Regions from separate parts of the Homo sapiens genome. Here region 2 is reported to be linked to region 1. The links are microRNA targets in miRTarBase. Many come from high-throughput screens and were not tested one by one. Region 1 holds a microRNA gene; the other region holds the end of a gene's coding sequence.
The links. Region 1 holds the annotated microRNA hsa-miR-6739-3p (AUUGUUCUGUCUUUCUCCCAG, at 1,569-1,589, opposite strand). A microRNA usually pairs through its seed, bases 2 to 8, with sites in the 3' UTR of a target mRNA and lowers its output. Matches are read on the target gene's strand: a 7mer-m8 pairs with bases 2 to 8, a 7mer-A1 pairs with bases 2 to 7 and ends in A, and an 8mer does both.

Region 1 (3,414 bases):
ATAAAATTTTGTAAACATATATGAGTGTCCATTTCTCTGGCCCACATATCCACAGCTTTTGTCATCCTACAGAGATATCTGTTACATCTCTCAAGAAAACTATTAAACCACTACCCATGTGGTCCAAGAGATATGAACATTAAAAATAAAAGTTTTCTTCACAGTTCTTCTGATTATAAAAGTAATATAAACTTGTTGAAACAAACAAACAAACAAAATATTTTATATATATAACAGAGAATGAAAGTTCTTTGTACTCTAATCTCCCCCAGAGAGAATCAATGTTGGTAAGTATGCCTGATAGGTACTGCTGTCTACCTAAAACACTCTGGAAAGTAATGGGCTTATTTTACCCAAAGTACTTTCACATTCATACCAAACTCCTCTCACAGCTTGCAGCTGCAAACATTTCCATAAAATCACAACACAAAGTGGATAATTCTCCAATGAAATCAAGTTTCACTAAGGTCAGAAGCTAAACAGGCAGTGACCACAGGTACAAACTCAGAAAAACCCTTAAAATAACATTCATGCCTTAAGCAGCTTAGGGCTCTCTCTTCTCAGACATTTAAAATGGTGTTAGAGCTTTCTGAAAAAGCTATACTTAGTTTGCCTCTTAAGATGATACTTCTAATTATTTTAGAGCCAAAGATCTGCTTCACCTAGATTGAAGCAGAAAAAGATGGGACGGTGTTTATGGTCATAACATTAACCATTTAATTAAAACAGGCAGTTCTTGAATGCTTTCTAATGACATATAACACACGGCATCTCAAAAGATACTCCTCTGCCTCAAAAGATAAGACAGGGCAGGCACATGGAAAATAAATTTTGTGTTGGTAGTTATAGGATTCAGTTGAGATGTTTAAGTTTGAGCCTAAGATATTCCTTAAAACAACAATGGTCCTTCTAGTCTGCGTAGGAATATAAATAAATGACTTTTGATCCATTAGTAACACTAGCCTTAAAAAAGATAGGTAAAACTGGGAAAAAATAAGCAGTGTTTCTAGGTCACATTATCCCAGATTTGGTTTCTAATATAATCAACCAACAAAATGATGTGGACTCTAATCCTGCTTCTATCATTCATCAATTGTGCAACCCTGTGCAAAACATTTTTCTCTCCAAACCTCAGGTTCTTCACCATTGAGAGAAAGGGAGTTGCCTAGATGATTCCAGAACTGGAGCGAATTTAAAGAGGAAGAGGAGCAGAAAGGAACAGGACATCTTCTGGACTCACAAAAGCCATGTCTCTAGCATGGTTTCTTTCCCTGTCCTTCCAACATTCACCCTGAAGGATATCATTAGCAGGGATTTCCAAGCAACATAATACACTGGAAAACTGTGATTTGTTATATCTAACCTGAGCAACTTTCCCTTAATTATCACGCTAGGGTAGCATACTCACCCCCAGATGGCTCTCACTGCAGAAATTCGAACTGATGGGGGCTGTGTCTCGTGAAGACCACTAACTGTTGCCTGTAGGAACTGCTGGATCAGTTCAGGGGACATAGCAACAGTGAACCGACTGGCAGCCCAAAGTGCCCGGCCCAAGAGGAAAGGAGACACTGGGAGAAAGACAGAACAATTAGGGGCTGGAAAATGAAAATTCCTTTTACTTGTTCTTTCTCTTTCCCACATTCATTCCTCAATTTTTTTTTTTTGAGATGGAGTCTCACTCTGTCACCCAGGATGGAGTGCGATGGCGTGATCTCGGCTCACTGCAACCTCCGTCCCCCGGGTTCAAGCAACTGTCCTGCCTCAGCCTCCTGAGTAGTTGGGATCACAGGCGCCTGCCACCATGCCCGGCTAATTTTTTGTATTTTTAGTAGAGATGGCGTTTTGCCATGTTGGCCAGGCTGGTCTCAAACTCTGGACCTCAAGTGATCTGTCTGCCTCGGCCTCCCAAAGTGCTGGGATTACAGGCATGAGCCACCGCATCCGGCCCTCCATTCCTCAATTTTTTAGAAGTAAATAGATGCTACATAATATGTACAACTCATTTGAGAGAAAAAGCATAACCTTGTATGATGAAAGCAAATGTGTGACCTGTGGTACAAAATCAATTTCCCAGTTTTCCCTTGTCTCTTCTGAGCAAAGTAGATCTTGAATATTATTAGACTAAAAAGACTTTACCACCCCAGTCCTCACCCCCAGCTCTCATTATTCCTTACCTGTACTACTAGTTAATCTTTTTTTTTTTTTTTTTGAGATGAAGTTTCATTCTTGTTGCCCAGGCTGGAGTGCAACAGTGCGATCTCGGCTCACCACAACCTCCACCTCCCTGGTTCAAGTGATTCTCCTGCCTCAGCCTCCCCAGTAGCTGGGATTACAGGCATGCACCACCACGCCCAGCTAATTTTGTATTTTTAGTAGAGATGGGCTTTCTCCATGTTGGTCAGGCTGGTCTCAAACTCCTGACCTTAGGTGATCTGCCTGCCTTGGCCTCCAAAAGTGCTGGGATTACAGGTGTGAGCCATGGTACCCGCCCACTTAATCTTCTAAGTTGCCATCTCCATTGCTAGTTTATTCCCACTTTTGGACCACTCTTTTTTTTTGAGATGGAGTCTTGCTCTGTTGCCCAGGCTGGAGTGTAGTGGCACAATCTCAGCTCACTGTAACCGCTGCTTCCCGGGTTCGAGCGATTCTCCTGCCTCAGCCTCCCGAGCAGCTGGGATTACAGGTGCGTACCACCACGCCTGGCTAATTTTTGTATTTTTAGTAGAGAGGGGGTTTCACCATGTTGGCCAGGCTGGTCTTGAACTCCTGAACTCAAGCAATCCACTCGGCTTGGCCTCCCAAAGTGCTGAGATTACAGGCATGAGCCACCGCGTGCAGCCTTGGACCACTCTTAAAACATAAATTATAGCTCTGATCATGTCATTCTTCTATTTAAAATCTGTCAATTAATTCCATAGTCCACCAAATAAAGATTACCTTAGTCATCACGTTATTCAAGGCTCCCTAAGATCAGTGACTCTAGCATTACCTATGATTTCCCTTTATGGTTTCCAAACTCAAGTACACATCCCTCCTTAGCAACTTACATCTTACTCTCCCAGCTCTCTGCCTTGTTCATATTGCAAGCCAACATATTCACCTCCTTGCATTACCTAATTCATCTCTTAGGCTGAAGCAATTCTAACTATCTCTATGCCACAGTAATTCTGTCTTTAGTGTTCTTACATGTTATATATTTCGTTTGATAGTCTAGCCACTAATGTAAGGATTACTACCCTTGTTTACTATAAGCTGCTGAGGAGAGACTATTCTTATTCAGCTTGTCACAGGGCTTAACTTGTTTACTCACACAATAAACATCTTGTTGACGGAAAACACTGAACAGAACCTAATAAACTGTGCCAGTCAAATTACGCAATACAGATGCTCCTCTGCTTATGATGGGGTTACTTC
Region 2 (3,414 bases), not on the chromosome of region 1:
TTAATTAGATATGCCCATTATTTCTTCACTATTTACCGAAGAAAAGTATGAAGAAAAAAAGACTAATTTGGTTTAATTATGGTTACATAAAAATTATGTAAATATTCAAACATTTGATGAAATCATCATACTCCAACCATAAAGAATTGTAATTCCTAATGGTTAAGCAGCTTTCAGATATCATTAATAAAATACATGACTGTCATTAAAAAAATTATCATTCAGTGCTATTGATTTTATAAATAACCTTTTAGGTTAGGCCCTGCCATACCAAATTTCCTTCCTGCCTTTTTTTTTTTTTTTTTTTTGAGACAGACTCTCGCTCTGTTGCCCAGGCCAGAGTGCAGTGGCGTGATCTCGGCTCACTGCCAGCTCCGCCTCCTGGGTTCACGCCATTCTCCTGCCTCAGCTGTAGCAGCTAGGACTACAGGCGTCTGCCACCACGCCCAGCTAATTTTTTGTATTTTCAGTAGAGATGGGTTTTCACAGTGTTAGCCAGGATAGTCTCGATCTCCTGACCTCGTGATCCGCCCGCCTCGGCCTCCCAAAGTGCTGGGATTACAGGCGTAAGCCACTGCGTCCAGCCCTCTGCCTTCTTTTAAAATAAATCAGGTAGACCTAAACTAACTTAAATGTTCTCATGAAAATCAGTAAACAGCTTGGTTTTGTATTAACTTTTAGATCTCCTCAGGAACCTACATGTGACAAATTCCTAAGTTTAACACCTTAATATTACTAGTAAGTAGCATGAGTGGTAGACTATGTCTGGACTCCACATCCTGCCACTTCCATTCCAGTATCTGGACCACATCACCACTAGGAGTATGGAGTTAATCATCAGTATGACACAGCATTGAAATTCTAAGCACTGCTGTTACTAATTTTGTTAATGTATGCATATAAACAGGTATATAAACACTAAAGCCATAAAAGAGCAGTATCTATTTCTTTAGTACTAAAAGAATTTCAACTGTTAGAAAAATGAATTGGCTTAAGAGACAAAAACAAAGCAAAACAAAACAAAACATGCATCTTGAAAGTTAAAAACAAACAAACTGAAGAAAAAGCCAGTTGAAGTATTTGGATTTAACTTTACCCAACTAAGACATTCACACAACATATGCATGTCAGTCTCCTGTTCAGTCCTAGAGCCTGCAGTATTGTAATTTATTGTAAAACCATGTAACCAAATACTTAAATATATCCACAACATCTATACCACAGAAATGCATAGTACATAATATACTAACATCTCAAAATAAACTTCTATTACAGTTTTATGCAAATTATGGTAAAAGATTATCACCTGCCACATTTTGAAATGGCACCAACTTCAACATCAATGCACTAGTCAAAATCCTTACTAGAAGTGATGTCTTCTGCATTATCATCTGAACATTCAAAATCAAGCTGTTAATCTAATAACCACAGTATGTTATCATTTAAAATCACTGTATATTTGGATGTTAAAGCAGGTAGTAATACAGCAGGAAAAGTGTTTCTAATTCACAGTTTCAAAACTAAAGGGTGCAGTTTTCAAATATCTGATTGCTTAAATTGGTCACTCAATTTAACAACTGCCTCCTTCAATACATGTAAACTATGTTTGCACAGCATTAGGAGATGTCTTTTATTTCAGAATTAGTTCTTACTGTTACAGGAGCACCACAAATTTTAAGGAAGAGGCTACAGTGTGAAATGAGCTCACTGAAGGATATGTTAAATAAAATTTTAACTACAATATAAGGTACTGCAAAAGCTTTGTTCCCCAGCACAGATCCCTTAATCAGGAAAAGTAGTGAACACTTACCCAATACAATATGTAAATTCGCTCTACAGGAGATGGGGAAAAACCTAACTCAACTAAAAGAAAATACTATTATTAGCTAACAAACCTGTGATAGCTGGCTTCAGAATTTTCCTAAAAATAAAATTCAAAAGCATACACAGTATTTATATCCTTTGATAAGGAATGTAGACATCCAAACGGAATGAAAGAAAAATCTGGTTTTAAGAATTTCTAAGTGGAATCACACACACACAAATGGGTAACTGAGAAAAACTAAATATTCAAAATTTAAGTAAGAAGATTTATAATAGAAAAAAGTGGCAAATTGTTACTGTGACTTGATTTTCTGAAAACATCTGCAAATTCACACTGGCATTAAGAAAACCCAAGTCTCAAAAATTCTCCTTTCTTTCTCTCCAGATAATGTGTTTTCTGTGCAAAAATAAATATCTGAAAATTGCACTAATACTTATTTTAACTTCTATATTATGAATAATCTGCACATGCTGCTTTACAGACGATACATATTTGTAAACTTACTCATGCAAAATTAGTGTGCGCAACAGGGATATTGTTAATTTTCATACTTAAAAATGATACCTTATTATCTTTTAAAAATTGCCAAACTCTCTGAAATGGTTAACAAATCTTATATGGATATTCTTGTCTGCCAGCTAAAAATCAATTTATGTTGCTGAAAACAAAAAGTTATACAAGAAAAAGAAACATGGTTTTTGTTTTGCAAGATTTTTGATTTTTAAATGAGAAAATTTATAAAAGAAAGAAATTCATGGTCACAAAATTTTAACATTTTAATCCTAAACATTACAGGGTAAATAGATACTGGACCCTATCTCCATACTCCATAAAATCCTAACTTTTAGTTTCCATTTCAAATGTTGCTGTAACCACTAAAACACTAGTGGTTTTACAACCTCTGGATTATGGAAATACACATTTCTGAAATAAATGCTACAAAAACAACAATGGAAGAAAGCCAAACAAACAGTCTCCATGAAGGAAAAAAAAGTGGAACATTTTGAAGCTTTTAGACACTTCTCTTTCCATGTCTTATGATTAACCTGTCAATTCAGTGCATTGTATGGTCATATGTAATGGTCCCCATGGTGAACAAACATCTAACTAGTGTCCATTGATTCCAAGTTAGTAGATGATGAATCTTTCTGGATACTTTCAAAGATAGCCGCCAGCTCAGGGTTAGAACTGATCTGTGACTGGAATTCACTCATCAGTGGACTCTTCTCTGCTTCTGGAATGGTTAGCAGTGCTGCTACTGCTCTCATGGCAGATCGCTTTAATTCATCTTGTTTTTCAAACTCCTGCTTTACTGAGTTTGCCTTTACCTGTAAGATGGAGTAAACTTAGATTACATGCTATAAAAGACAGCTCTTACATGAACAAAATTTAAGCACATAAGATCTTCCTGCTAAAAGCTACTCTCGTAGGTCCATAAGGCATATTACATTCTAAGAACAACTGTTTTTAAACTTATTTTTAAAGTAGCTGTCTCCTTTTCTTTTAAGGGAATATTTTACACAAAGCCCCATTATAAAAACAGAAAATCTAGACCCAAATGATTGTAACAAAGAGAGTAGGACACTCTT

Region 2: the mRNA of CAND1 is a reported target of hsa-miR-6739-3p. Seed matches in the 3' UTR shown: 7mer-A1 at 1,761-1,767.

What each region holds. Positions count from the first base shown.
Region 1 is chr1:201,861,602-201,865,015 of GRCh38, reverse strand. It overlaps MIR6739 (microRNA 6739), which reads right to left and starts at 1,643; the gene lies at 1,569-1,643. It overlaps IPO9 (importin 9), which reads right to left. Exons shown (of 24, transcript NM_018085.5): 14 at 1,409-1,568.
Region 2 is chr12:67,312,345-67,315,758 of GRCh38, reverse strand. It overlaps CAND1 (cullin associated and neddylation dissociated 1), which reads right to left. Exons shown (of 15, transcript NM_018448.5): 15 at 1-3,153. The coding sequence ends at 2,929. Among named protein-coding and RNA genes, the nearest start is that of CAND1, 45 kb to the right of the region's middle.